Linked DNA regions of Homo sapiens. The protein of the gene in region 2 interacts with the protein of the main gene of each other region in a pairwise test. Each region holds a gene or a part of one and is shown on either strand. Other genes may lie near its edges.

The links.
Region 1: the proteins of ACBD6 (region 2) and NMT1 interact in binary tests that used the Homo sapiens proteins (3 or more experiments, as listed by UniProt).

What each region holds. Positions count from the first base shown.
Region 1 is NC_000017.11:45,052,370-45,068,340, reverse strand, and holds the start of NMT1 (glycylpeptide N-tetradecanoyltransferase 1), read right to left. Parts: upstream 7,025-15,971; 5' UTR 7,012-7,024; coding exon 6,881-7,011; intron 1-6,880.
Region 2 is NC_000001.11:180,496,277-180,512,112, forward strand, and holds the start of ACBD6 (acyl-CoA-binding domain-containing protein 6), read right to left. Parts: upstream 6,302-15,836; 5' UTR 5,991-6,301; coding exon 5,769-5,990; intron 1-5,768. UniProt on the Homo sapiens protein: Binds long-chain acyl-coenzyme A molecules with a strong preference for unsaturated C18:1-CoA, lower affinity for unsaturated C20:4-CoA, and very weak affinity for saturated C16:0-CoA. Does not bind fatty acids. Plays a role in protein N-myristoylation.

The DNA.
Region 1 (15,971 bases), on a different chromosome or scaffold from region 2:
GCCACCACGCCCAGCTAATTTTTGTATTTTTAGTAGAGATGGGGTTTTGCCATGTTGGCCCGGCTGGTCTCGAACTCCTGACCTCAAGTGATCTGCGCACTTCAGCCTCTCAAAGTGCTGGGACATTTTTGAGGCAAATACTGAGCCTATGGAGGAATTCCGGTTTAGTATTTTTGGCGCTCTCAATAGAGAACACCATATTTTTGTCCCTTAAATGTAACAATCACAAGGACATCTTCTTTGAGGAATTGGAAGAGAGGCCTGAAGGGTAGAGATTTCAGATAAAAAGCTGAAGAGAAAGAGTTAAAGAAGCATCCTCCTGAAGTTACTAAATGTATGGCTCATAAATCTATGGGCTCTATAGGGAAAGGGTTAACTGCCAACTTAGTAAAGCTGGGGAATTTTAGCGTGAGCATATTAGTTGAACAATGTGAAAAATCAGCAAAACTGCTGTGCCATGAGCAGCGAGTCCCTGAAATAGGCTCTCATTTACTTTCCATTTCTTCTGCTTTCCAGTCTCTTCTCTTTGAAGCAGCTCTTGATTAGTTTCTTTTTAATTGCCATTTAATTGGGAAACAAAATTAGAACACTTATTTGATATCAGTGATGAGGTTTCTCTTTCCATTCTGCTTTGATCTAGTTTTGAAAAACCAAAAGTTGAAGGGAGAAATTAAAAAGGAACTAAAAAGATTTCTTATTTCCAAGAGCTAGCTGCAGCTATAAGCCATCAAATAAATAGGGAAAGAACGACTCTTGGAGAAGCTGAAGAAAAAAACAAAAACAAGTAAGGCTAGCTTTATGGAATTTATTTTCAGAAAGACTTTTCTCTCCTCCTAAGTTTTCATAAGGGATAGTATCTCACAACCAGGAAATGAGGAGAACTTATAAAGAATCCATGTTAACCTGTCCCAGGGAGTAAGAGAGCAGGATGGAGATGAGACACCTCTTGTCAGAGGGCTCTTGACCCGTGCTTACCAGGATCTCAATGACACTGAAGACACTGCAAAATAAATTCCGAAAGATTCCTAGAACACAATAGTCTAAAAGTTCTTTTTTGTTCCAAAACACTCAGACAATCTTCACTTATTACCCCCAAATTAAAATCTGCCAACTGATGAGATTTATTCTTTGGCAATACTTCTTGGAAAGACTCTCATTAAAAAAAAAAAAAAATCAAATTAAACCATATAGATGAATCACGAACTACAGGGGGATGCTGCATAAAGGTTATCTTATCTGACTCTCCTCTCAATTGTTCAGGATAATTACGCTAGGCACGTAACTGGGGGAAATTGAGTGCAGTAAAAAAACAAACAAAACCAGCTGGATGCAGGAGCTTATGCCCACAATCCCAGCAGTTTGGGAGGCCAAGGTGGCAGCATCACTTGAGGCCAGCAGTTTGAGACCAGCCTGGGCTAAATAGTGAGACCCCATCTCTACAGAAACTTTTTAAAAAGAAAATTAGCCAGGGATGATGGTGCATGTCTACAATCCTAGCTACTTGGGAGGCTGAGGTGGGAGGATCGCTTGAGCCCAGGTCAAAGGCTGCAGTAAGCCATGATCACACCACTGTACTATAGCCTGGACGACAGAGCGAGGCCCTGTTTCCAAAGTAATAACAATAATTTTAAAATTAAATTAAAAAATTTTTAAATAGAAAAACTGAAGAGACGCACCCATACACACTGCATATGTATGCATGTATACCTATATGTATACATGAAGGGTTTGGGTTTTTTTGTTTTTATTTATAGAGATGGGGTCTCACCATGTTGCCCAGGCTGGTCTCGAACTCCTGAGCTCAAGTGATTTTTCTGCCTCAGCCTCCCAAAGTGCTGAGATTACAGGCATGAGCCACTACACACAACCACATGAAGTTTTATATTCACCAAATGTTTATGCTGATTTAATTACGGAGGAAACACAAGACCAGAAAAGTCAAGAACTAAATTCATATACAAAGAGACATAAGTAACTAATACAACTGGCCGGGCGTGGTGGCTCACACCTGTAATCCTAGCACTTTCGGAGGCCAAGGCAGGTGGATTGCCTGAGCTCAGGAGTTCAAGACCAGCCTGGGCAACAACGGTGAAACCCCGTCTCTACTAAAATATGAAAAATTAGCCGGGTGTGGCAGTGTGCTCCTGTAGTCCCAGCTACTCAGGAGGCTGAGGCAGGAGAATTTCTTGAACCCGGGAGGCAGAGGTTGCAGTGAGCCAAGATCGCGCCACAGCACTCCAGCCCGGGCAACAGAATCCAGTACATGAATTTAGCTCATTTTATTAGCATAGAGTACTATGACTTTAGTTCCTGAAAAAAAGGGGCAGGAGGCTGGGTGTGGTGGCTCATGCTTACAATCCCAGCACTTTGGGAGGCTAAGGCAGGAGGATCACTTGAACCCAGGAGTTTGAGACTAGTCTGAGCAACATAGCGAGACACAGTCTCTTTAAAAAAAAAAAAAGGCCCAGGAGAATAAGGGTTAGCTCGAACTATCATTAACCTTTATTATATATTACACATTTTAGACTCTCTAGCATTGAAAGGAAAACTTCTCTGTCAATTTTTACATGATTTTTGAGAACATTTTAAATAATATTAAGACAAAAAACATTTCAAGAAGCAAAACACAGTGGAAAGCACACAACAGTGGAAAGCTCCACAGCAAATTGGAGCTTCCTGGTTTCTGTAGGTATTTCTTTTTTTTTTTTTTTTTTTTTGAGACAGAGTCTGGCTCTGTCGCCCAGGCTGGAGTGCAATGGCGCAATCTCGGCTCACTGCAAGCTCCGCCTCACAGGGTCACACCATTCTCCTGCCTCAGCCTCCCGAGTAGCTGGGACTACAGGCATGCGCCACCACACCTGGCTAATTTTTTGTATTTTTATTAGAGATGGGGTTTCACTGTGTTAGCCAGGATGGTCTCGATCTCCTGACCTCATGATCCCGCCCGCCTTAGCCTCCCAAAGTGCTGGGATTACAGGTGTGAGCCACCATGCCCTGCCTCTGTAGGTATTTCATAAAAACTGTAGTGAGGCTTACAATGAGAATTATTTGGGGAGAGAAAATGTGTATGTAAGAAAAATCTGACATCCTCTCACTTGGTGAGGGGAGATGAAACTCCACTAATACTGGGCTAGGCACTTTAATATCTGCCATTCATTCATACAGCAAATACTCATTAATGCCCACTAAGTGCTAGGCATTTCGAAGACACAATCCTGTTTACATGCTCCTTACTGTCAGATGAGACAGGTACCAGACACATTAAGAAAAATTACCAAACATGTAGTTATATTTATTGTTATTATAACTATTGTTACGATAAAAGCTACAATACAGTATGTGATAAGAGCAGAGGGGCAAGCTGGGAGGTTAGGGACGATCTGAAGAAAGAGGAGGAGGGAGGAAAAGGAGTGCATTCCAGATGTTATCTCATTAATCCCTACAACTCTGAGTTAAGTACCTTTCCCAAGGTCACAGGACTGTTAAGTGTCAGAGCCAAGCTTTGAGATGAGATTTTGAGATCAGAGGCTTGCTCTGTCGCCCAGGCTGGAGTGCACTGGAGAGATCTCAGCTCAGTGCAACCTCTGCCTCCTGTTTTCAAGTGATTCTCCTGCCTCAGCCTCCTAAGTAGCTAGGATTACAGGCGCCTGCCATCATGCCCAGCTAATTTTTGTATTTTTAGTAGAGATGAGGTTTCACTATGCTGGCCAGGCTGGTCTCAAACTCCTGACCACAAGCGATCTGCCCACCTCAGCCTCCCAAAGTGCTGGGATTACAGATGTGCGCCACCGCGCCTGGCCTCAGACCAGATTTAAATTATTCCAAAGTCCATGCTTTTCTACTGTGCCGTGCTGCATTTTCCCACATTGCTGCTTCTCCCCAAAACCATTTCCTCTCAAAGTTCATGGAAAAATGTTGACTCTACCCCAGATTCTTAGTGCCAGAATTAGACTCTCTCCTCCAGACTAGGCCCTTGGTTTTTCACCTACTACCTCCAAACTCATTTTCACAGATCTTTAGATTTGGGACGCTAATAAACATAATTTTTTCACCCAGACCATAACCATGCACAGAGACACCACTGCAAACTGTCAAAGTTTTTAAGGTTATCACTTACTTCTACTACAAATAAAATAATTTTATTTATTTATTTTTTTGAGATGGAGTCTCGCTCCGTTGCCAAGCTGGTGTGCAGTGGCGCAATCTCAGCTCACTGCAACCTCCGCCTCCCGGGTTCGAGTGATTCTCCTGCCTCAGCCTCCCGAGTAGCTGGGACTACAGGTATGCACCACCATGCCCAGCTAATTTTTCTATTTTTAATAGAGACAGGGTTTCACCATGTTAGCCAGGATGGTCTCAATCTCTTGACCTCGTGATCCACCCGCCTCGGCCTCCCAGAGTGATGGGATTACAGGCATGAGCCACTGTGTGCCACTTTTTTTTCTGAGACAGGGCTTTGCTCTATTGCCCAGGCTGGAGTGCAGTGGTGCAATCTCAACTCACTGCAGCCTCCACCTCCCAGGTTCAAGTGATTCTCCTGCCTCAGTCTCCGGAGTAGCTGGGACTATAGGCGTACGCCACCATGCCCAGCTAAATTTTGTATTTTTAGTGGAGACGGGGTTTCACCATGTTGGCCATGCTGTTCTCGAACTGCTGACCTCAAGTGATCCACCTGCCTCGGCCTCCCAAAGTGCTGGGATTACAGGTGTGAGCTACCACGCCAGGCCAATAAAATAACTTTCTGGCACACAGTTTTGAAAAGTGATTCACAGATTATAGGGCACAAACCTAAGGACACTGGTCAGGACAACAGTTAAGAAGATAAAAATAAAAGCAACTACAAAAAGAGCAAAGAAAATGCCACACTTTCACTTCTGGAATGACTTTCACATTCACCAACTCTCATCTGTGATTCAGATCTCTACTCAGGAGAGCTTCACTTTCCCTTCTTCCTGTTCCTACTTCCTCTTTCTCAGCTCTTCCATTTTTAGGAATATCAAACTTCAAAAGAAGACTTTTATTACATTAGATCTGTTGTGAGTTACAGCAACAGAACAGTCTTATAAAAACTAAATTTGGCAAGCTTCCTATTCCTCTACTTTCTTCCTGTGATTTTTTTTTTTTTTTTTTTTTTTTGAGTCGGAGTCTCGCTCTGTCGCCCAGGCTGGAGTGCAGTGGCGTGATCTCAGCTCACTGCAAGCTCTGCCTCCTGGGTTCACGCCATTCTCCTGCCTTAGCCTCCCGAGTAGTTGGGACTACAGGCGCCCGCCACCACGCCCGGCTAAATTTTTTGTATTTTTAGTAGAGATGGGATTTCACAGTGTTAGCCAGGATGGTCTCGATCTCCTGACCTCGTGATCTGCCTCCCAAAGTACTGGGATTACAGGCATGAGCCACCATGCCCGGCCCTTCCTGTGATTTTTAATGCCGGCTGAAGAACATAAAAGCTAGATCTTTTAACCTAAGATTTACCACAAGCAGATTATAAACCACTTAAATACAGTCATGCTTCACTGAACGTCAGGCATATGTGCTGGGAAATGCATGGTTAGGTGATTTTTGCCTTGCCAACATTATAGGGTGTACTTACACAAATCTAGATGGTATAGCCTACTAAATGCCTAGGCTATATGGTGTACATTACAGTAACATGCTATACAGGTTTGTAGCCTAGGAGCAATAGGCTGCTGCATGTTACTGAGTACTGCAGGCAACTATAATACAATGGTAAGTATTTGTGTATCTAAGCATACCTAAACATAGAAAGGATACAATAAAAATATGTACTATAATCTTGTGGGACCATCTCTTCTACGCAGTCCTTGGTCTTTATACCTTTATATCTGCACTGCCACCAATACTGCGAATAACAAGCTGGCTACGAAAATCAGACTACCTCAGACTCAGCAAGTTATACACCCAAAAATCTCTCACGACTTTCAGTTTAAAAATATATCTACAAATATAGACAGGAAGATGGGGAGAGACAGCGTGAGTGCCAGTGCCAGGCACTAACCATGTGAAGAAAGATGAATAAGCTGTGGCTTACAGAAGTAAAAACTAATTTGGGAAAAGAATTCAACATTCAAATGCCTGGTGTGTTTCTTCATCCCTAGGAACAAATAGTAACTAATGGCAAGACCCTAAAGTACAGGATAGGCAGTATGGAGCCCGAGGATTCCAAATACTCTCCAAGAAACAACATCGCTCATTTCTTGAAGCCTGGGGCTGCTCTGCAAAGGTAACAAGGCAAAGATGTTCGAAGACTTAATTATATTAATATATCGTTCAGGATACTTATGGATTATTTGGAGCAATGGAAACTATGTAAATCAAAGCATTACCATACCGTTAATTACATAGGTTTATAAGGTGAGTTTATATTTTGGGATTCTCTGGTAGTGATATTTTACAATATAATTATACATACAGTTTGTATAGTCTGATGAGTTTCCTCACTGAGGGTGAACTGCTGCGAAATGTTTTATGATTCGTTTATTGCTAGTCACGTTGTTCAAACAACACGTCTATAAGTAACGTTCCCTTTGAACTGTACTGTTACTAGACTGTCCTGTGTTGTACCATCGAAAACCATCGTCCAACATGCTCTTTTCCCAGGAATGGCCTGAAGCACACGAGTGGAACACTGCATAGAACTTTTATATAATAAAAGTACTGAACGTCTCCGGCCCTTAATATCCAGAGCACCCACCCTTGGTAAATGACAAAGGCAATAACCAATCGCCAGGCAGAATCCTAGTGACTTAGCCAATAAGAACATGAGGGTGGGGCTAGACTAAGCTCCCGGTGACTTCCCCGCACCCCAGAGACCCAGGTTGTGGGAGGCTGGACGGGAATTGGACTCCGAGGATTTCGTTACCCCCGGTTGTAGCTGTTGTCCTCCTCATTCTCGCAATCGCTGCAGTGCTCATGGCCGTTCCCGTTCCCTTCCATCATCTGCGGCAGCGGAGGTGCCGGCGGCTTCACTGCTGTCTCACTCTCGTCCGCCATCTTGAGTTGCGAGAGCAGGGCTCCGCGCCCCACTACATGGGGGGTTCCTATTGGACAAGGGGAATTTGCGCTGCATTCTGGGTTTTGTAGTTTTTCTGGCGAAGCGAGCTGCCACTAGGAGCGACTCTTTCCCAGGAAACTGACTACAATACCCAGGAATCACGAGGGACGGCTCCGGTCGGATTAAGAGGCGGGGCCACTGATACCCGGAAGCCTAGGCATTCGGCCACGCTTTGAGGAAAGAAGGGGCGCAAGGTTGGTGGGACCGACCCTTGGGAACCGGGCGGCCGCCTGGCATGATGGGAGTTGTAGTTCGATGCTGGTTTAGGGTTTCAGGCGTGGAGGTTCCAAAATCCGAGGTTTGATTTCAGCCTGCCCTTGCCAGTGCCTGGGCCGCTGGGAGCCGTTATTGGCTGCCGTTAAGGACCGTTACGTTTCCCGGGTAAGTGAAAGGGCCTGAGGCCCGCGGGTGCTACCTGCCTGGAGCCGGAATGCCCCAGGCCTTCTTAGAGTGGGCTTTTCCGCAAGAAGCCTAGTTGACTCCTGGCCGCCTTCCTCACTCGGGAGTCTGGGCAACCTGCGGTCATTGGCAGTTCAAGGTCTCATGAGAGGCAGTGGATTTTTTTGTGCGAAGCACTGACCCTAAGCCAGGAGACCACACTGCTAGGGAGGCAGGGCTCGCCGCCTCATCTTGGCCTCCAGGTACTTATCTTCGCCAAGCTCTTTCGCGCACACGTGGTCCCTTTAATTCCCCACAAGAATTTTCCACAACGACCCTTTTTTTCTTTTCTTTTCTTTCTTTCTTTCTTTTTTCTTTTTTAAATACGGCCGCCTTCTGTCGCCCAGGCTGGAGCGCAATGGCTCAAGATCACAGCTCACTGCAATCAAGGTATCCTCCCACCTCAGCCTCCCAAGTACCTAGGACTATAGGCATGAGCCACCACACCCGGATAATTTATATATTTTTTGTAGAGACGAGGGTCTCGCCTTGTTGCCCAGGCTGGTCTCGAACTCCTGGCCTCTAAGGATCTTCCTACCCCAACCCCGCAAAGTGCTGGGATTACAGACGTGAGCCACGGCACCCAGCCCACATCAACTCTTTCTTTAATAAGTGCCAGACTCTGTAGTAAGGCATTTCGTACATTATCTCATTTAATCCTCTCAACAAGTCTACAATATAGGTCCTATTATTATTATTCAACCTTTGTTTTGTTTTGTTTTGTTTTGAGACGGAGTCTCTCTCTGACTCCCAGGCTGGAGTGCAGTGGTGCGATCTCGGCTCACTGCAACCTTCGCCTCCTGGGTTCAAGCGATTCTCTTGCCTCGGCCTCCTGAGTAGCTGGGATTAAAGGCGCACGCCACCACACCTGGCTAATTTTTGTATTTTTAGTAGAGACGGGGTTTCACCATGTTGGTCAGGCTGGTCTCGAACTCCTGACCTCGTGATCTGCCCATTTCGGCCTCCCAAAGTGCTGGGATTAGAGGTGTGAGCCACCGTACCTGGCCATATTGACCTTTTTGACAGATGAAAAAATGTGGCCCTGAGAGGTTGGTAAATTGCACAGTCACATAGCTGGTTAAGTGGCAAATCGGTATACAAATCCAGATCTGTGTGCCCCAGGCCCTCTGAATTCTTTGCCACCATAAAAGTCCCATTTTCTGATACACTATTCACTCAAGGAAATCAGTTACTAAAAGGTAACTGTGACTCCAGTGCGTATTCTATATCAGGGGAAAAAAGGTAACTGCCACATTTTAATCTGTTTTTAACCTTGATTGAATGTTTCAGTCCCTGAGTCTCACTCTTTTGATTGAGTAATCTCGCCTAAGTGCCCAAAGACATGGTTCCCATTCTTGGAAATTTCCTATTCGGGTTGAGTGTGGTGGGTGATGAGAGGACTAATTCTTACCATCAGAGTGCTCCATGGCCAAAAAGGGAAATGATCTTTGCCTTTGGGAAAGATCTCAACATGGGAAGAATGGCAGGGCGGGAAGAAACAGTTCCCATCTGACTCAGGGAAAGAAAACACAAATAAAACACAGAACTAAATATAGTCAACTCTTTCTTTCTTTTTTTTTTCTGAGACGGAGTCTCGCTCTCTTGCTCTGTCGCCCAGGCTGGATTGCAGTGGCGCGATTTTGGCTCACTGCAAGCTCTGCCTCCCGGGTTCACGCCATTCTCCTACCTCAGCCTCCCAAGTAGCTGGGACTACAGGTGCCCGCCACCTCACCCGGCTAATTTTTTGTATTTTTAGTAGAGACGGGGTTTCACCGTGTTAGCCAGGGTGGGCTCGATCTCCTGACCTCGTGATCTGCCCGCCTCGGCCTCCCAAAGTGCTGGGATTACAGGCGTGAGCCACCGCGCCCGGCCAACTCAACTCTGTTTTTATATCAATGGCATAAGCATAAGTAATTATGATCCAAAGCAGCAGATAATCCTCAGTCATTTATATTTGACTTTGGAAGGCAGTCAAAGATGCCCACTCAGTCTGAGAGCTGTCACCACACTCAACTCTCCGGGGTCTAAGACTGCTGTTCAACGCGATTGCCCTATTTGCAGCTGCAGGGAAGGGGGGGGTCAGAGGTAAGAAGAAGAATAATAAAGCCAGGCCAGGCGCTGGGGCTTATGCCAGTAATCCCAGCACTTTGGGAAGCCGAGGTGGGTGGATCACCTGAGGTCAGGAGTTCGAGACCAGCCTGGCCAACGTGGCGAAACCCCGTCTCTACTGAAAATACAAAAAAATTAGCTGGGCTTAGTGGTGGGCGCCTATAATCCCAGCTACTTGGGAGGCTGAGACGCGAGAATCTTTTGAACCTGGGAGGCGGAGGTTGCAGTAAGCCAAGATTCTGCCACTGCACTCCAGCCTGGGTGACAAAGTGGGACTCTGTCTCAAAAAAAATAAAAAGTAGGCTGGGCGTGGTGGCTCATGCCTGTAATCCCAGCACTTTGGGATTACAATAATAAAATAAAAGATAAAAAGATATTTTGTGTGTTATTTTTATTTATTATTATTTTTGAGACTGTCTCGCTCTGTCGCCTACGCTGGAGTGCAATGGCGCAATCTCGGCTTGCTGCAACCTCTGCCTCCTGGATTCAAGTGATCCTGCCACCTCAGCCTCCCCGGTAGCTGGGACTACAGGTGCGCACCCCCATGCCTGGCTAATTTTTGTACTTACAGTAGAGATGGGGTTTCACCACGTTGGCCAGGCTGGTCTTAAACTCCTGACCTCAGGTAATCCACCTGCCTTGGCCTCCCAAAGTGCTGGAATTACAGGTGTGAGCCACCACGCCCAGGCTTTTTTTTTTTTTTTTTTTTTTTTGAGACGGAATCTCACTGTCACCCAAGTTGGAGTGCAGTGGCACAATCTCGACTCATTGCAACCTCTGCCTTCCAGGTTTAAGCGATTCTCCTGCCTCAGCCTCCCAAGTAGCTGGGATTACAGGTGCCTGCCACCACGCCCAGCTAATTTTTGTACTTTTAGTAGAGACAGGGTTTCACCACGTTGGCCAGGCTGGTCTCGAACTCCTGACCTCAGGTGATCCGCCCACCTCGCTCTCCCAAAGTGCTGAGATTACAGGTGTGAGACACTGCACCTGGCCTGAATTACTGTTTTTTTTTTTTTTTTGAGATGGAGTCGCACTCTGTTGCCCAGGCTGGAGTGCAGTGGCACTATCTCGGCTCACTGCAACCTCTGCCTCCTGGATTCCAGCAGTTCTCCTGCCTCAACCTCCCGAGTAGCTGGGATTACAGGCACACACCGCCATGCCCAGCTAATTTTTTGTATTTTAGTAGAGACGGGGTTTCACCATGTTGCCCAGGCTGGTCTCCAACTCCTGAGCTCAGGCAATCCGCCTGCCTCGGCCTCCCAAAGTGCTGGGATTACAGGCATGAGCCACTGCGCCCAGCCGAGAGCTTTCCACTTTGAAACAATTTTGGTTTGTGAAAAGCTGGCCCGGTTCTGCCTTATGGAGTTATGCAGAAATATAGCTGGGTGAGGTGGCTCATGCCTGTAATCCCAACACTTTGGGAGGCTGAGATGGGTGGATCACTTGAGCCCAGGAGTGTGAGACCTGCCTGGGCAACATAGAGGACCCTGTCTCTAAAAAAAATACAAAAATTAGCGTGGCATTGTGGCATGCACCTATGGTTCTAGCTACTTGGGAGGCTGAGGTGGGAGGATCGCTGGAACCCAGGATCATGCCACTGCACTCCAGCCCGGACAACATGGCAAGGCCCCGTCTCTATATAAATAGGAAAAAAGGGCCAGGCGCAGTGGCTCACGCCTGTAATCCCAGTACTTTGGGAGGCCAAGGCGGGCAGATCATGAGGTCAGGGGATCGAGACCATCCTGGCTAACATGGTGAAACCCTGTCTCTACTGAAAATACAAAAAATTAGCCAGACGTGGTGGCGGGCGTCTGTAGTCCCAGCTACTTGGTAGGCTGAGGCAGGAGAACGGTGTAAACCAGGGAGGCGGAGCTTGCAGTGAGCGGAGATCACGCCACCGCACTCCAGCCTGGGTGACAGAGCGAGGCTCTGTCTCAAAGGAAAAAGGGCCAGGCACGGTGGCTCATGCCTATAATCCCAGCACTTTGGGAGGCCAAGGCAGGCGGATCACCTGAGGTCAGGAGTTTGAGACCAGCCTGGCCAACGTGGTGAAACCCCGTCTCTACTAAAAATACAAAATTTAGCTGGGCACAGTGGTGGACGCCTGTAATCCCAGCTACTCGGGAGGCTGAGGCAGGGAGAATTGCTTGAACCCGGGAAGTGGAGGTTGCAGTGAGCCGAGATCGCACCATTGCACTCCAACCTGGGCGACAGAGCAAGACTCTGTCTTGGGAAAAAAAAAATATATATAAAAAAGAGTGCAGGCAGAGTGTGACTCCCTGGGTTCTAAATCCTGGCTCTGCCTCTGACTTAATGAATGACCTTAGGCAAGTCACTTAACCTCTGAGCTTTGATGTCATTATCTGTAAAATAAGACTTACATAGAGAGCCCTAAAAGTGTCTAGGACAGAATTAATACCCACTTAATTAGTATTTCCCTTCCCAGGAAGTCAGCATTACTGGTATGATAACCAAAGAAAAGTTTTCTTCATGATGTCCATCACAGATCAAGGCCTTTGCTGTACTTCCAGCATGTCAGAGATAACCTTCTTTTTTTTTTTTTTTTGAGACGGAGCTTTGCTCTTTTTGCCTAGGCTGGAGTGCAATGGTGCAATCTCTCCTCACTGCAACCTCTGCCTCCTGAGTTCAAGCGATTCTCCTGCCTCAGCCTCCTGAGTAGCTGGGATTACAGGTGCGAGCCACCATGCCTGGCTAATTTTTTGTATTTTTAGTAGAGAAGGGGTTTCACCATGTTGGCCAGGCTAGTCTCAAACTCCTGACCTCAGGTGATCCCCTGCCTTGGCCTCCCAAAGTGCTGGGAGTACAGGTGTGAGCCACTGTGCCCGGCCACATATAACCTTTCTTCTGGTGGACCTACGAAGCCATGAGATAGATTGTGATTCATTTATTCCAACCTCGGGAACACTGATGACTTGTCAGCCTCTATGGCAGGAACTGGAGAGTCAGGGGTAGAACAGTTCTAGCACAGTGCCTAAGAAAGTGGGGAGCACAGGCTGTCCAGAGGCAGGAGATCCTGGGGGGACATGGTGGCTTAGCTGAATGTTCATCAGGACAGTAAACAAACTGGGGTGGACCTTCTAGGTAGAAAGTCCAGGTGCCTGAGACTTGGGTGCTTTTGAGGTATGGCAATGAGAATGATATGACTTAGGACTGGAGCTTAGAAAGTGAGGAGTGTGTGCCTGTGGTTCCAGCTATTCAGTGGGAGGCTGAGATGGGAGGATCACTTGAGCCTGGGAGGCAGAGGTCACAGTGAGCCAAGATCGTGCCACTGCACTAACCTGGGTAACAGAGTGAGACCCTGTCTCAAAAATAAATAAATAAATAAATAAATAAATAAACGTACAGAAAATAAATTTAAAACCAGGAGCCAAAGGAGTCATCTCTAATGGACTCAGGGTTGTTCATCAAACAAAATGAGAAGCAGAACTGTATTCCAGGCATCATGCTAAATGCTAAGGACACAGAGGTGACTGAGATGCAGGCCACTCTCAGGATAAAATGAGATTGTGTAAGTAGCTACAGCCAGCTCAAAGTTTCTTATTGCCATCCTGAATCATGAAAGACATATATTTGAGCTGAAAAAGCCCTTGATGGCATCACATGGAAACTCCAAAGCCCAAGTTTCATTATGGAGGAGGTGCCTGGGTTGAAGGCCCTGTAGCAGCCCTTCACCCTTTCCTATGGGATCTTCCTGGGGCAGAGGTGCAGCTGCTTTTGGCAAATCGGACCACAAGGATACCTCCTTGGAAGACAAGGCTCTCACTTGTACATGAATAGTTATAATACTGTAAGGCAGTATCTGAGAAAAGTAGGGTCATCTGGACGGTTTCCTAACACTGTGTCCCAGGAAGATCCAGATAATTTGGGGGGACAGGCCAGGCCTGTTCCTATCCCTGTCTTGGCCAGCCATGATTACTGGTGGGAGTCTGGGTATCCCTTGGATGTGTCAGGAGTAGGGAAAAGGGTGAGAACCACAGGATTAGGTTAGCTATACATTGTTTGATCAAGGAAGGGAATTGAGCCATTAAATCTGGCTCTATAAAATAGAATTAGATTTGTTCTGTATGGCCCCACGGTTTAAAACTAGGAGAGATACTGCCTAAGAAAGAACTTTCTAACTGCCAAGACTGGACTTGAAAAAATAACAACTGTCAGCCAGGTGTGGTGGCTCACACCTGTAATCCCAGCACTTTGGGAGGCTGAGGCAGGCAGATCGCCTGAGGTTGGGAGTTCGAGACCAGCATGGCCAGCATGGTGAAACCCCATCTCTACTAAAAATGTAAAAATTAGCCTGGCATGGTGGCAGGCACCTGTAATCCCAGCTACTAGGGAAGCTGAGGCAGGAGAATCACTTGAACCCGGGAGGCGGAGGTTGCAGTGAGCTGAGATCACGCCATTGTACTCCAGCCTAGGCAACAGAGCCAGACTCTGTCTCAAAAAAAAAAATAAATAAAACTGTCTTGAGTGGCAGTGAGTTCCCCAACATGGGACATGTACATGTATACATGGCAGAGATAATGTGGAAGAGATTCAAATACTGGCAGGGTGTTTGTACCAAATGGCCCTTTTGGACACAAGATGGAATCCTTTTTATTGGGTGATGGCAGTAGGTCTCCTTGACTGTTGAAGTCAGGAAGAAAGCTTTCAGGGACTCAGGTGATCTGAGAAAGATGTTAAATTACTTAATTCCTCAATATACTGAATCCCTACTGTGCAGGGCACTGGGTATTGTAGTAGTAGATAGGCAAGATTCCTACCTTAAAGGAAGTAGAGAATAGAGATACAGTTTAAGGAAAGGGAAGGGAGACAGGGTAGGTGTTAATTAAAAACTTCCTGCTGGTGAGGCACCGTGGCTCATGCCTATAATCCCAGCACTTTGGGAGGCCGAGGTGGGTGGATCACCTGAGGTCAGGAGTTTGAGACCAGCCTGGCTAACATGCCAAACCCCATCTCTACTAGAAATACAAAAATTAGCCAGATGTGCTGGGCATGGTGGCTGACGCCTGTAATCCTAGCACTTTGGGAGGCCGAGGTGGGTGGATCACCTAGGTCAGGATTTCCAGACCAGCCCGGCCAACGTGGTGAAACCCCATCTCTACTAAAAATACAAAATTAGCCGAGTGTGGTGGTACATGCCTGTAATCCTAGCTACTTGGGAGGCTGAGGCAGGAGAATCGCTTGAACCCGGGAGGTAGAGGTTGCAGTGAGCCGAGATCATGCCACTGCACTCCAGCCTGGGCAACAAGAGCAAAACTCCATCTCAAAAGCAAAACAAATTAGCTGGATGTGGTGGCGCACACCTCTAGTCCCAGCTACTCGGGAAGCTGTGGCAGGAGAATCGCTTGAACCTGGGAGGCAGAGGCTGCAGTGAGCCAAGATCCTGCCACTGCACCCCAGCCTGGGCAATAGAGCGAAACTCTGTCTCAACAAACAAACAAACAAACCAAACAAAAAAAAAACAAAAACAACTTCCTGCTATATGTGAGGCATAACTAGATAACTAGTTTTTTTTTTTTTTTTTTTTTTTTTTTAACTGGAGACAGAGTCTTGCTGTAGTCTCCCAGGCTGGAGTGCAGTGACCGGATCTTGGGCTCACTGCAACCTCCACCTCCCGGGTTCAAGCAATCCTCCTGCCTCAGCCTCCCGTGTAGCTGGGATTACAGGCATTCACCACCACGCCCGGCTAATTTTGTATTTTTAGTAGAGACGGGATTTTGCCATGTTGGCCAGGCTGGTCTCAAACTCCTGACCTCAGGTGATCCACCCGCCTTGGCCTCCCAAAGTGCTGGGATTACAGGCGTGAGCCACAGCGCCCGGCCTAGATGCTTTATTTTTTTTGAGGCAAGGTCTCGTTTTGTTGCCCAGGCTGGAGTGCAGTGGTACCATCATGGCTCTCTGCAGCCTTGACCTCCTGGGCTCAAGCCATCCTCCTGCCTCAGCCTCCCGAGTAAATGAGACCACACTGTCACCATGCCTGGCTAGTTTGTTTTTTGTTTTTTTTTTTTGTAGAGATCGGGGGTTAGTCTCACTCTTGTTTAGGCTGGTCTCGAACTCCTGGGCTCAAGTGATCCTCCCAAAGTGCTGAGATTACAGGTGTGAGCCACCGTGCCCGGCTTTTATGTATTCTTTCAACAACGCTGCACGGCTGCGATTATCCCCACTTTGAGAGGAGACAGGATGAGAGGCTGAGTGGCTTGCTAGGCTTGTATGGACAGGATGCGGGCTCTGCAATCACATGACTTTGTATGAGAGGGCAAATGGATTAACCGCTAAACATAGTTTCCTGTTGTGTAAAATGGGGATGATGATAGTATCCACCCTGCGGACTGTG
Region 2 (15,836 bases):
CCTTCCTTATGAACTCTTAGAGCATTTACTCTATATATCTTTTATGGTACTTTTCACTTTTTCTACCATGTGTTTAGAAAGTTTTGTGTAAAGTCTCATCTTTCTATTAGAATAGAGCCTGTAACTGTTCTTAACTCATCCACAGAACCTATCTACTTCTCAGGGATTTTCCCACTGTTTCCCATTACTCTAACTGATGCCTTCATCTAACCAGAATGATCTACTGACTGCCTTAGGTATTCCTAGTTCAGGGTTTTGCTTGTTACTCCACTCACCTGAAATGCCTTTTCTTCTTTCCTCAGCTTTTCAAGATGCTGCACGACCTTCCAGTTCTACTCAAATTTCAGATTCTAAGAACCCTTTCAGTCTACAATGATCTCATCTACCTCTGAATTCATAACAATTACCACCTCTATCATTTGCTTAGCGATTAATTGCATGGCCCTATGCTGTTATTAAAATGTATACTTACATAGAAGCAGCCCTGTTATGATGGAATAGAGAGAAGAAAGGGTGAAAAAGAAGGAGCCACATTTCTTGAACAATCACGATAGACCAAACACTTCACATATTTTATCTCAAATGGGCCAAAAAAAAAATCCTGCTAGGTATGCCATCACAAACTCATTTTATAAATGAAGAGAGAAGCTCAGGAGGGTTGTCTCAGTTCACACATTAGTATATCCTGAATTAGTAGTCCGGATTTAAATCAAAGAGTGTTTGACTCCAAAGCTCAATATCCCTTTACTACATCATTCTGTCTTAAATGCTAAATAGAGTCTGGGCTTCAATTCTGGACTCTCTAAAATCACATGAACTACCAGACTGTTAGAAATAATAAATGAGATAAATTATACAAACTTTAAGACATAAAAATAGCAATTATAACTATTTTTGTTTTTTATCCAGACACTATCCAGTGGCAGAAACAAATGCCAATAGTTCTCCATTTCTCCTATAGTAACAGAAGTCTCAGCTGGACACATGATCATCCGGCTAAACATTATACATGGCCATCCAACTTCTGCCTAGGTTCTGGGGACTGGATGTGTGGAAAAGTGATACAAATACCTTCCTTAAAAAGAAAAGGAGCTTGTCTTCCCCTTTCCCTTTGCTCTGGATAGGATATACATGTGGTGATGGTAAGCCACCTCTGACCATGAAAAAGGAACTTAGGGCAGCAGTTTTCAATTTTTTTAGTCTTGTAATCCCTTTATACTCTCAGAAATTAAGGATCTTAAAGAGCCATCATTTATATGGGTTATATCTATCGATATTTACCACATTAGAAATTAAAACTGGGACATTTAAAAAATGTGTATTAATTCATTTAAAAATAATAAACCCATTAGATGTTAACATAAATAACATTTCATGCAAAATAACTACATATTCTAAAAAAAATTAGTGAGAAAAGTAGCACTGTTTTACATTTTTTAATTTTTTTAATGTCTCGCTTAGTAGAAGCCAGTTGCATTTGCATATCTAATGCTGCATCCAGTCTACTGCAATATGTTGTTTTGGTTGAAGTATATGAAGAAAATTCGGCTTCACGCAGATATGTTGTTAGAAAGAGAGAGAAGTATTTTAGCAGCATTTTCAGATAATTGTAGATATTCTTCTTTGATACTATGCCAAAACCTAACAGATGGTAGTTTAAGGTCAGTTGCAACGAGGAATCTGAACTCATATCAATGAATTTTTCATACTGTTAACACTGAAATCCATTGGTCTGACTTGCACTTTGAAAGGCATCTTTTACCAACACATAATTTGTAACATCATTCCATGAAATATTTAGAAAATATGGTTTACTGAGTTACACAGACTTTTCAAATGTTGACACATTTCATGATATAACAGCAAACGTTCACATTCATGACTGTCACCACTTATCTCATCAAAAAAAGTTTTTAAGTACTGGGAAGCTGTCAAGCTCATGGTGGCAGATATAGATTTTCCAAATTTCTCATTTTCACTTGAAGGTTCAAATGTTATTACTGGCAACAAACACTTTGAGTTGTTTTCCTTGAAGTGACAGGCTTATTTCGTTCATTTTTAAGAAACTACCTGCCAAATACCCAAATTTGAGTAGGTATAATTATCTGTGAGTTGTTCTGTTAAGTAAAATTGGAAAAGAATATAGTTCATTTTGCGACTCAGAAATTACACAAGTGCTTTTCCTCAAAATAGTTAACATAATTCAGTATGCAGCAGAAGTACTTTGTGTGTACTTCCCATCTCATCACACAAAATGTAAGACTTGACTCAAGGGTTAATATTTAATAAAGTAGTATTAAGGCACGGTGGCTCATGCCTGTAATCCCAGCACTTTGGGAGGCCAAGGCAGGTGGATCACCTGAGATCAGGAGACCAGCCTGGTCAACCATGGCCAACATGGTGAAACCCCATCTCTACTAAAAATACAAAAATCAATCAGGTGCGGTGGCAGACACCTGTAATCACAGCTACTCGGGAAGCTGAGGCAAGAGAATAGCTTGAACCTAGGAGGCGGAGGTTGTAGTGAGCCCAGATTACGCCACTGCATTCCAGCCTGGATGACAGAGCAAAACTGTCTCAAAAAAAAAAAAAAAAGTATTATTAAACAGTATCTTATGAAGTCAACAGGAATTCACAAATTTTCATTACTCTCCAGTTTTCACAGCTGTCAATTAGCTATCTTTAGGAGGGAGAGTGTAGGCTGATGTAAAGAAGGACCAAAAAATTGTTCATTCGATTTTGTTAAAACTTTATTAAAAGATTATTCTGAAGCCATAGGCTTATCTGAGACTAATAAAGCTATGATGCTAAGTTTAGAGTTCTCCCTGAGAAAATAAGGTTCATATTTCAGCTTATTTTTATTATCTTCCTGCCAACAACCTCATCCAGCCTACAAAATAGGGTGCTATTCTGAATACAAAACGTTATTTTATAAATTTTGATCCAATATGCAGAAATGATATTGGACTTCCAACTTTATTATTCTATCAAAGATGCTATTCTTAACACTATCTCACAATTTTGTCAAAAATATTTAGGAGATTGATGAAAACTGCGGCCCAGTGTCATATATAAGTAAGCATATTATTCTCTAACAATGCAGAATTTTATTTTCAGATACAGAATATCTCTAAACACCATAAAGTCAAGTTCTTGAAAGGATGAGGGACATCCCTCCTTCATATTATCTGGATGAAGTGAGTATACCTGAGACAAAATGGTTCCCAAGTCGATAGGTGACTACAGTTCACTGATGACTTAGAAATATAGTATTTTAATAATGACACCAATATCAATAAACAAAGATATGTCCTAGAACGAAAAATAATATTTTCTAGGGAATTTGGGGAAAATTAGTCTCATACTGCCCAGAGAATCATCAGACATATTACAGGTCCTAAAATATGATTCTCAGTAAATATTTGTTAAATAATCAAAAGTTTCACTCTAATGTTATTAGGACAAAGTATAACAAATGACCAAAGAGAAAACAGATATCTACAACTTTTCCAAGAAAGCTAATTCCAAGGCCAATTTGGAGGTAATTTTCATTCGACACTATAATTTATACCATTTGTTCCTACAGCTTTCTCTCTCAGGTCACATTAACTGATATTCATAATAATGACCATCAACCTTCAAAACAAGGTTCATTTTTACTCAGTACATCCAGTTTAAGAACACAGTGGGGCTGGGCATGCGGGATCATGTCTGTAATAACAGTACTTCAGGAGGCGTAAGCAGGAGGATCGCTTGAAGCCAGAAGCTTCAAGGCTGCAGTGAGCTATGAGTGTGTAACTGCCCTCCAGCCTGAGCAACGAAACAAGATCCTGTCTCTAAAAAAACTTTTTTAGTTAAAAAAAAAAAAAAAAGAACACAGCAGGACCTCTCCCCCAACTTATTTTTCCTTTAACAAATACAGGGGAAAATACGTAACTATGTCAAGAGGCAAAAAGAAAAAAAGTTTACACATTTTTAATAAAACAAAATAGGCTATTATCCAGAATTTCCTTTCCTCTAGTGTTTCAAAGAGCTGTAATTTTCCTGAACTGTTATTTAACTCTTGTCAGCAATTTTTCAGGTATGTTCAAACCTAGACTCCTCAAGTACTTTAAGTCTCTTAAAGCAAATGTTGGCGGGGCGTGGTGGCTCACACCTGTAATCCCAGCACTTTGGGAGGCCAAGGCAGGCAGATCACCTAAGGTCAGGAGTTCAAGACCAGCCTGGCGAACATGATGAAACCCCGTCTCTTCTAAAAATACAAGAAATTAGTTGGGCATGGCGGCAGGCACCTGTAATCCCAGCTACTCGGGAGGCTGGGACAGGACAATCGCTTGAACCGGGGAGGTAGAGGTTGCAGTGAGCTAAGATCCAGCCACTGCACTCCAGCCTGGGCAACAGGAGCAAAACTCCATCTCAAAAAAAAAAAAAAAAAAGTGTCAGCCAGGTGCAGTGGCTCATGCCTGTAATCCCAGCACTTTGGGCAGGTGGATCGTCTGAGCTCAGGAGTTCAAGACCAGCCTGGGAAATGTGGTGAAACCCAGACCCTCTGTAAAAAAAAAAAAAAAAAAAAAAAGTGAGTGTCATGATGTTTTTGCTTCTCTGCAAAGTGTCATGATGTTTTTGCTTCTCTGCATTCTCTGTAGGCATTATACCCAAGTGTCTTGCACATAAAAGCTGCTGAACAAATATATGTTGCTTATGATAAAGCAATTATTTTCCTTCTGGTACCAACCAATGTCACCCTGAATTATAAATTAAACGTGTCTATACACCTCCCTATTTCCAGGTAAAGTTCACAGCCTTAGACTGAGTCAGGAGCTACAATCCAGTTCTGACTGATGTATTTGTATGACCCTAGGAAAGGTGCCTACTCTCTATGGCCTTCAGTTTCCTTTACTGTAAAAGAAGGGCATTATTTCCTCTGGTGTTCATAGCTCTAAAATTTTTAGATTGTATCAAACAGAAAGGAAGACATACTCAACGAAAACATAAATCAAAGATATTTAGGATTTTATAAAAATCACAATAAAAGTTGTAATACTGCATTTTGCATTGCATCACATTATTATTATTATTATTATTTGAGGTGGAGTTTCTTCGCTCTTGTTGCCCAGGCTGGAGTGCAATGGCGCACAATCTTCGCTCACCGCAACCTCCGCCTCCTCAGCCTCCCGAGTAGCTGGGATTACAGGCATGCGCCACCACGCTCGGCTAACTTAGTAGAGACGGGGTTTCTCCATGTTGGTCAGGCTGGTCTCCAACTCCCGACCTCAGGTGATCCTCCCGCCTCGGCCTCCCAAAGTGCTGGGATTACAGCCGTGAGCAACCACGCCCAGCCCTGCATCACATTATTACAATCCTATTATCTTTTTGGATCTCTATATAGTTTTATTAACTTTACCGTATTTACTTCCATGTGGCCCTCTGGGAAAGAGTAAATGAATGATATATCTTATTTTATCCTCATTTTGTAAAGGTTCTTGGGCTGGTAAAATGCAAGATCACTGAATAAGTCAGAGAAAAAAACACAAAAACAATGTCCAGTGTCCAGCTAAATAAACATCACTCCTAAGAAAGCAAACATCTTTTCCACGTTCAGGATGATGCTCATCCCCAGCAGATGGTCAAAAAAAAAAAAACAAAACAAAATACACATACACAAGCTTCATTACACCTAGCTATTAACCATACATGCTTGCTATCAGTTGTTGAGGAAGAAGGCTCCGTGTCTTTCTCCCCCATCCACCCTCTCCCTGCTACTTTACCTGTTTGTACCTGGCATACAGGTACAAGAGCTGCTCCCTGCTGGCCACCTGAATCAGGCCTTGCAGGTGCGCGGCAGCCTTCTCAAACAGCTCGGCCAGGCAACTGGTCTCCTCGATCTCAGGGCTATGGGGGAACTCCACCTCCCCGGAGTCGTCCCCTGAGCTCAGCTCTCCACCGCTGTCGCCGGTGATGGCCCCCGCGGGCAGGAATGATGAAGCCATGTCTCCTTGCTCGCTCCGTCCCTCTGTGTCCGGTCTGTCCTCCTTGGATTGGGTGTAAGGCCGGCTTGGAGGCCTGGCCCACCAGTCTGGGTCGCGAGCCTGAGCTCCAGTCGGACCCAAGCTCAGTCGCGGCGCGCTCCCTCACGTGACCCTGCTCCCTGCCCACTTCTACTCCCTGGGCGTGCAGAGCAGGCTCCTCGACCCTCTGCCGCTCTGCCCAGTCGACCCGGTCTCCTCCGGCTTCCCTCCGGCCAACAGCGCGCTCAGGCTCGCCTCAGGCCCCTCCAACGGAACAGGAGTCGAGGGGCAGTGAGGCCGGGATGCGTGCGAGCGCGGGGCGCGGCTGGCGCTGGGCCGTGGGGGCGGGGCGGCGTGCGTGCCAGCGGCGTGCGATTCTGTGAGGCCTGCTCTGCGCCGGCGGGGAAGCGCGGGCGACGCTACGCTGGACGTCCTTCCCTGCCGGAGGAGAGAAAGTGCCGTCAGCTGTAGGGGCGTCTTTTAATCGTTTCGCTGAAATTAGCAGTCCCGAGCTCCGGAGCCCGCCACCGGGATGGGCCCCCGGGGGTGGGGGAAGGAGGCCGTTTGTGTGGTAGTGTAGCGGTGAGAGCGGAGTCGCGGGAAACGCGAGGCTGAGGACTAAGGTTCCGCCTGCCCCAGATTGTGCGCCCCAAGCGCCTCCAAACAGCCCTGCGCGCGGATCTGTTGCGTGCGCGTTGGGCTCTGTGTTGAATAATGAAAAACTGCGAGATGGGGCTGTCCCGTCTTACTGTGTGACTGATGAGTGGAATCACTGCTCTGCGTGTTTCGCTCTCCACACCTTCGGAGCCCGCACCTCTCCGGGCCCTGAATAATAGGGTTTGGGGAGTTCGGGGCGCGCCTTAGCCCAGTTCTCATCCCGAGCTCTGTCTTTGACACTGTGCTTTGTAGACACTGTACAGTGAAACCAGAAGTACGGCACAGTTCGGCCCTAGAGGAATGCACAAAACTATTTTTTTAACTGTAACATTATGAGTGGTTATGTCCTAAATGTTAAACACAACGACGCACTATATATTCATTTAGTATTCAAAACAATGTAATAAGCACTATAAGAAGGGTACAAAGAAAGTGTTGTAAACAGTGGTTATTGACTGGGGTTAGGCTTGCGACGGGTGGACGGACGGCTGGACAGGATGAGGAAGCAATGAGAGAACACAGGAAGGTGAGAAAGCTTGCATCAGGATTCAACAGACATTCCTTAAGTCTCCAGAAAGTTCCACTGTTAGTCCCTGCTGTCAAGGTGCTCGCAATCCAGTCAAAGGGATGTTTAATGACCAAATTCTTGCAATTAAAAAGTGATTAAGAATAATGTATTGAGGACTTGATCATTACAACATAAGGTAGGTACTCTTATTTTACTACACATAGGAAATCAGCACAGAGTGGTTAAGTAACTTGTCAAAGGCTACACAGCTAGCAAATGGAGGAGCAAGGAAAAAGAAGTTAGCTTTCATGTGGGGTAATAATGGATGATGAACCCGACAAGTAGACTGAAGGAGATATAACATGGACTTTTATATCTTTGTTTCTAGAATTTTTATTAAAGTGAGAATTGAATATTATCAACGGCTTTTTTGGCATCTTTGGAGATTATCTGCTTTTCTCCTCTAGTCTTCGAAAGGAATTATATTAACAGTTTCTATTTTAATGAATTATATTAACAAAAATAAATTTGGGATTTAATGAATTATATAATAGCTAACATTGATAAATTAGTATGCATTATTTCAAAACCTCCTAGTTTTGAGCATTACTTCTGTTCTTGGAATAAACCCATTCTGGTCCTGGTTTGGTTTTTTTAAAAAATTTGTAGGTTCAGTTTGCTAATATTTTCATTATCTTTACAGTTCCATTTAAAGATGTCATTAACCTATAGTTTTCCTTTTCTATACTTTCTCAATTTTGTATCAAGGTAATAGAATCCTTGTAGAATGCATTTAGAAGTTTTCATCTTTTTCTGTATTCTGGAAGAGTTTACATAACATGGGAAAGAGAGCAACCAGAATTCTTTTACACTGCTGGTGTGAGCATAAATTGGTACAATCACTGTGGAAAAATGTTTGGCACTATCTACTAAAGCTGAACATAAATATACAACAATTCGACTCCTCCCCAGCGGGAATATATACATGGCATTCACCAAAAACATGTACGAGAACATTCATAGCAGCACTATGAACTAATTCCTAATTGCTCCAAACTGGAAGCTCCTGAATGTCCATCAACACTAGAATGGAGATAAACTGGTGTGCTTACATGATGGAATACTATTCATCAGTGAGAATGAACTAATTACAATGACACAGAATAACATGAATGAATCTCAAACATAATGTTGAGTATAAGCCTATACTCAAAAAAGTGCATATTACATGTTTCTAGTCATAAAAAATTCAAAATCAGGCAAAACTAATCTGTGGTGTTAGACTCAGGATAGTGGGTAACCTCAGGGTTAGTGATCTGAAGGGTGCATGAAGGGGACTTCTGGAAGTTGGATATGTTGTTTCTTAAGCCGAACATTAGTACACTGATGTGTTCACTTTATGAAAATTCATTTATAATTTATGTACTTTTCTGTATGTATATTTGAATGAAAAATGTATTATAAAACTAAAATGTAAGAAAGAAAAAGGAAAGAGTCCTTAACATTGAGAAGCTGGCCTGACACTCACAGCTAGGCCTTGTTATTCTCCTATTGAAGAGAAATAATCTCACAAAATAGCAACTGCAGACAAGGTCACTCTGAAATCATGATACAATGATACAAAGCAAACCACTTCATTAAGCTTTTCTAAGCACAGACAAAAAGCTCACTTTACTGACTACAAAATACAACACCTTTTTCTTGGCCCAAACAAATAACTACTACTACTTTAAAATTGCAGCTTTATTCTCATGCTAGCCACTTCTCTATAGATAAGACTGAGATGCCCAAGATCTCAATCTTGTTACAGTAGGTAGCTAGTCAGGAATGAGCAGGGCAGGAGAGGGCTCCGCACCACACGCACATATCAGGAATGTCGGGCAACCATCAGGTGATGGTCAAGCGGTTGTTAACTGTCTCACTAAAATAATAATTGATCACAGCTGGCACCAGGGAACAGCAGGCTCCTGATAGAAAACACCTGAAACTAGTGATCAGCAGCTTCCCGATAAGATCTCAGGAGTGGGGCGAGTGGGCTCAAGCATGTGCATGCGGACAGCCCACCCCAAGGGAAGAATCGGGGAGAAGTAATGCAAGACCGCAGAAGTAAGCCAATATATAAAACCCCAAGGCCAGGCACACAGTGGCTCATGCCTGTAATCCCAGCACTTTGCAGGGCCAAGACGGGCGGATCATCTGAGGTCAGGAGTTTGAGACCAGCCTGGCCAACATGGTGAAACCCTGTCTCTACTAAAAATACAAAACAAAACAAAACAAAACAAAAAAAACAAAAAAAACAGAATTAACTACTCAGGAGGCTGAGGCACAAGAATTGCTTGAACCTGGGAGGTGGAGGGTGCAAGCCAAGATCGCGCTACTACACTCCAGCCTAGGCAACAGAGCAAGAATCTGTCTCAAGACAAACAAAAACAAACCCTGAGTCAAAATATCAAGCTGTGTACTTGCCTTTCAAGTTGCCTGTTTGGCTTTCTTCCAAGCATACTTTCCTTCTTTTTATTCCTGCTCTAAAGCTTTTTAATAAACTTTTACTGCTGCTCTAAAACTTGCCTGGGTCTCTCCTTCTGCCTATGTCCATCAGTTGAATACTTTATTCGGAGGAGGCCAGAATTGAGGGTGCTGCAGACCCCAAGGGATTCACCACTGGTATTACTATTTTGAAGTCGTGTGACTCAGATACGTTTCCCTGCTGACACAATCATAGACTTCCCCCAGCTTTCTGACTGCATCCAATTGAGAGCATATTCCCGCTTCCTTAGATGCTCTCCCAAATCACCACAAAGCCCAAATCGTATAATAGGTTCTTTCTTAACACCCTTTTACCGAGGCAGCCCATTCTTCCTCAAGGTGTGTGTTCTTCCTCACTGCAACCAGAAATAATTCCAACTTGGTTAACTACAGATGTGTTCCTGGAGGTCTCTGCCTGAAGGACATTGACACTTGAGAAGCTTTTATTTCTTGAAGAGTCTATCGAAATCCCAAAACTCTCAGGATCTGGTGACACTGAGGAGACAGATATTTTACCATTAGTGTTTCCCTTCACCCATTTTTTGGGAAAGATAGTACAGTTGACCCTGGAACAACACAAGTTTGAACTCTGTGCATACATTTATACACGGGTTTTTTTCTACATATATTGGAAAAAGTTTTGGATATTTGCAACAATTTAAAAAACACAGATAAACTGTATAGCCTAGAAATATTGAAAAATTAAGAAAAGTATGTCATAATGCATAAAATATGTAGATACTCATCTTTTATCATTTAATACCCTAAAATATACACAAATATAACTTTTTTTTTGAGACAGAGCCTCACTCTTGTTGCCCAGGCTGGAGTGCAATGAAGCGATCTTGGCTCACTGCAACCTCTGCCTCCCAGGTTCAAGTGATTCTCCTGCCTCAGCCTCCCGAGTAGCTGGGATTACAGGTGCCCGCCACCATGCACAGCTAATTTTTGTATTTTTAGTAGAGATGGGGTTTCACCATGTTGGTCAGGCTGGTCTTGAACTCCTGACCTCAGGTGATCCACCTGCCTCGTGCTGGATTATAGGTGTGAGCCACTGCTCCCGGCCCACAAATGTATTATAAAAAGTTAAAATTTATCAAAACATACACACATAAACACAGACCGTGGCACCATTAACAGTTGAGAGAAATTGAAACAAACATAACGATGCAGCATTAAATCATAACTGCATATAACTCATACATACTGTAGTGCTGTACTAATTTCATGGCACCTCTCATTGCTATTGCAGTGAGCCCAAGTGTTTTGAATGTATCCACTTAAAACACTTCGTGATGTTAATCATCTCCACAAGAGCAGTTGTCTCTCCAGTAAATTGTGTATCATAGTAAAAAGTGATCACTCATGGTTCCTGTATTTTTCATCGTGTTTAGTGCACTGCCGTCAACCTTGAATAACACCGTGGTACCTATACAAAGTGCCACTAGCGATGCTGTAAATGCTCCCAAGAAGCAGAGAATAGTCATTACAAGGAAAAGTTTAATTGCTTAATAAGTACTGTAGATTGAGGTCTGCAGCTGTGGTTGCTGCCATTTCAGGCAGGGATTCATCTTGTAAGCAAAAGAAATAAACTTACAGTATTGGTAAATAAGTACAATAATAATAATTACTATAAATGTATTTTCCTTATGGTTTTCTTAATGACATTTTCTTTTCTCTAGCTTACTTTATTTCAAGAAGACAGTACATAATACATATACAAAATATGTGTTACTCAACTGTTTGTGTTCTTGGCATGGCTTGCAGTCAACAGTAGTTGACTGCTTAGGGGTCGATCCCCTTATTGCTGAGTTGTTCAAAGCTTAACTGTTTATGTTTCTTTGAATCCCAAGAAAAATCAGCCAAGAAATCAGGAAGTCAAAAGAAAGTATTACAGTTCTGCAGGAATTGAAGTTTAGCAGTCAACATACACTGATTCAAACAAACCCGCTAACAAGTGAAAAGCAATGGCAGGAAACACTGACAAATGGAGTCTAAAGTGAGCAGAAAAAGGAGCAGGCAGGAAAGAAGTAGTGAAGATCTAATCAGTCTGGCTCATGATGGTGGCCATGTTGCATATGGTGTTCACAGCCCCATCTTCTGGTAACAATGAGTCATTCTTGCAAGTAAAATAAATATTGATGACATGATATGCATAATAAATAAAATTCTATGAGTCATGTTCTAAGAAATTAGAAGCAAAATAAGTCCTCAAACTGGCAATTTGTTTAAGTGATGCTGAGTAGTTCTATTAACCTTGCTAGAAGGTCTGAATGTTATGTTATTAGAATACTACCCAACAATGTTGTGGCATTTTCCAGTGTTTATATTCATTATAAACTACAGTTCTAAGTATTTCAAGAAGAAATGCAAAGAGAAAAATATGTGATTGTTGTAAAATGCTTCCCAACATAACATCTGAACTGATCTAAACATCTGAATTAACAAAAGTCATAATGAGAGGTGACGACCTACTGGCAGCCCTCACAGAGGGCTGGCTGTCAGCACCTCCTCGGCCTCGGCAGTGCTTGAGGAGCCCTTCAGCCTGCCGCTGCACTGTGGGAGCCCCTCTCTGGGCTGGCCAAGGCTAGAGCCGGCTCCCTCTGCTTGCAGGGAGGTGTGGAGGGAGAGGAGCAGGCTGGAACCGGGGCTGCGCGTGGCGGTCGCAGGCCAGCGTGAGTTCCAGGAGGGCATGGGATCTGTGGGCCCTGCACTTGGAGCGGCAGACCGGAAACACTGGCCCCGGGCAGTGAGCGGCTTAGCACCTGGGCCAGCAGCTGCAGAGGGTGGGCCGGGTCCCCCAGCAGTACCGGCCCACCGGCACTGCACTCGGATCCTCACAGGGCCGCAGCTGCTTCCCTGCAGGACAGGGCTCAGGACCTGCAGCCCACCATGCCCGAGCCTTCCCCCACCCCGCCATGGGCTCCTGCGCAGCCCTAGCCTCCCCAACGAGTGCCGCCCCCTGCTCCGCAGCACCCGGTCCCATCTACCGCCCAAGGGCTGAGGAGCCCGCAGGCACGCAGCGCTGGACTGGTTGAACAGCTCCGCCCGCTGCCCTGGCACGGGATCCACCAGGCGAAGCTGGCTGACCTCCTGAGTTGGTGGGGGGAGGTGGGACTTGGAGAACTTTTATGTCTAGCTGGAGGATTGTAAATGCACCAATCAGCACCCTGTGTCTAGCTCAAGGTTTGTGAATGCACCAATCAGCAGTCTGTATCTAGCTCAGGCTTTGTAAATGCATCAATCAGTGCTCTGTGTCTGGCTAATCTAGTGGGGGACTTGGAGAACTTTTGTGTCTAGCTCAGGGATTGTAAATGCACCAATCTGCACCCTGTCAAAACGGACCAATCAGCTCTCTGTAAAATGGACCAATCTCAGCAGGATGTGGGTGGGGCCAGATAAGAGAATAAAAGCAGGCTGCCAAGAGCCAGCTGCGGCAAGTCGCTCAGGTCTCCAGCTTAGTTGTTTTGCTCTCTGCAGTAACTCTTGCTGGTGCTAACTGTTTGGGTCCGCACTGTCTTTGTGAGCTGTGACACTCATGGCGAAGGTCTGCAGCTTCACTCTTGAGGCCAGCAAGACCACGAACCCACTGGGAGGAATGAACAACTCCAGACGCACCGCCTTGAGAGCTGTAACACTCACCGCCAAGGTCTGCAGCTTCACTCCTGAAGCCAGGGAGATCACGAACCCACCAGAAGGAAGAAACTCCAAACACGTCCGAACATCAGAAGGAACAAACTCCCGACACACCATCTTTAAGAACTGTAACACTCACCGTGAGGGTCCACGTTTTCATTCTTGAAGTCAGTGAGTTCAAGAACCCACCAATTGCAGACACAATAACTGTTTCAGTAGCATAACTGAAGTCAGGGCAACCAGACAAAATATTTTCCTCGTTACAAAAGTAACTGCACTGGGTTTAGTACAATTTAGGTTTTTGTGAAATATTGACATTTAAAAAATTTTTGTATCAATACCTTTTGAGGTATAAATTTTTTTTGTTATATGGATGAATAATGTAGTGGTGACTTCTGAGACTTTAGTGCACCTGTCACCCAAGTAGTGTACATTGTACTTAATATGTGGTTATTTATCTCTAACCCCATTCCCACCCTCCCCCTGCTGAGTCTCTAAACTCCATTATACCACTCTGTATGTCTTCATGTACTCAAAGCTTAGCTCCCGCTTACAAGCGAGAACATACAGGTTTTGGTTTCCCACTCCTGAGTTACTTCATTTAGAATAATGGCTTCCAGCTCCATACAAGTTGCTGCCAAAGACATTGTTTTATTCCTTTTCATGGCTGAGTGGTATTCCGTGGTGTCTATATACCACATTTTCTTTAGTCATTGGTTGATGGGCACTTAGGTTGGTTCCACATCTTTTGCATTTGTGCTACTATAAATGTGTGTGCAAGTGTTTTTTTTATATAAATGACTTCTTTTCCTTTGGGTACATACAGTCAGTAGTGGGCTTGCTGGATCAAATGGTCGACCTACTTTTAGTTCTTTAAGGAATCTCCATACCATTTTCTATAGAGGTTGTATTAATTTGCATTCCCACCAGCAGTGAATAAGCATTCCCTTTTCCCCACATCCATGCCAGCATCTATTGTGTTTTGACTTTTTAATAATGGCCGTTCTTACAGGAGTAAGGCAGTAACTCATTGTGGTTTTAATTTGCATTTCCCTGATGATTAGTAATGTTGAGCATTTTTCATATGTTTGTTGGCCATTTGTATATCTTCTTTTGGAAATGTCCGTGCATGTCCTTTGCCCACTTTTGGATGGGATTTTTTTTTTTCTTGCTGATTTGTTTGGGTTCCATGTAGATTCTTGACACTAGTCCTATGTGGGATGCATAGTTTACAAATATTTTCTCCCACTCTGGGTTGTCTGTTTACTCTGATTATTATTTCTTTTGCTATGAAGAAGCTTTTTAGTTTAATTAGGTCCCATTTATTTATTTTTGTTTTTGTTGCATTTGCTTTTGGGGTCTTAGTCATGAATACTTTGCCAAGGCTGATGACTAGAAGAGTTTTTACAATGTTGTCTTCTAGAATTTTTATGGTTTCAGGTCTTATATTTAAGTATTTGATTCATCTTGAGTTGATATTTGTATAAGATGAGATAGGGATCCAATTTCATTCTTCTACATGTGGCTTGCCAGTTTCCCCAGCATCGTTTATTAAATAGGATGTCCATTTCCCGATTGATGTTTTTGTATGCTTTGTCAAAGATCAGTTGGCTGCATGTATTTGGGTTTATTTCTGGGTTCTCTGTTCTGTTTTATTGGTCTGTGTGCCTACTTTTATACCAGTACCATGCTGTTTTGGTAACTGCAGTTTTATAGCATAATTTGAAGCTCGATAATGTGATGCCTCCAGATTTGTTTTTTTTGATTAGGATTGCTTTGGCTATTGGGGCTCTTTTTTTCGTTCCATATGAATTTTAGAATTGTTTTTTCTAATTCTGTGAAAAATGATGTTAATGTTTGGCAACTTTTTTTACATTAGCACCAAAATACTGATTGATCCATTAAAAATACATTAATTCCTGATATGATTCAGACACAGTGCTAACTCCTAAGAATACTACAATGAACAAAATTTTCTTTCCCTCACTCTACTCCAGCCACATGAACCTCCCTGTAGCTCTTCTACAAGTCAAGCATGATCCAACATATTACCATTTTAGTATCCTTGGACTTGTTATTCCCTCGTTCTGGAACACTTTGCCCCAAAATATCCACAATTTGCCCTCATCTCTTTCAGGTCTTTGCTCAAATGTCACATTAATAAAAGCTTCCTTGACAACCATATTAAAAACTTGCGACCCGACTCCCAGCAACACTCTCTATTCTACTTCTTTAGCACTTGTTGCATCTAATACGTGGTATCTTTTACTCATTTATTACATCTAATCTATATAAGTTTCATGAGGGAAGGGATTTTTGTCAGTTTTTATTGCTGCTATACTCTCCAGAGTTGACACATAGCTAAATATTTTCTTTTTTTTTTTTGAGATGGGGTCTCAGTGTGTCACCCAGGCTGGAATGCAGTGACACGATCTTGTCTTGCTGCTGATACGGTTCCAATGAGTGGAGGAACACCAGGGTTCTTCGTCTCGAGTCAAATT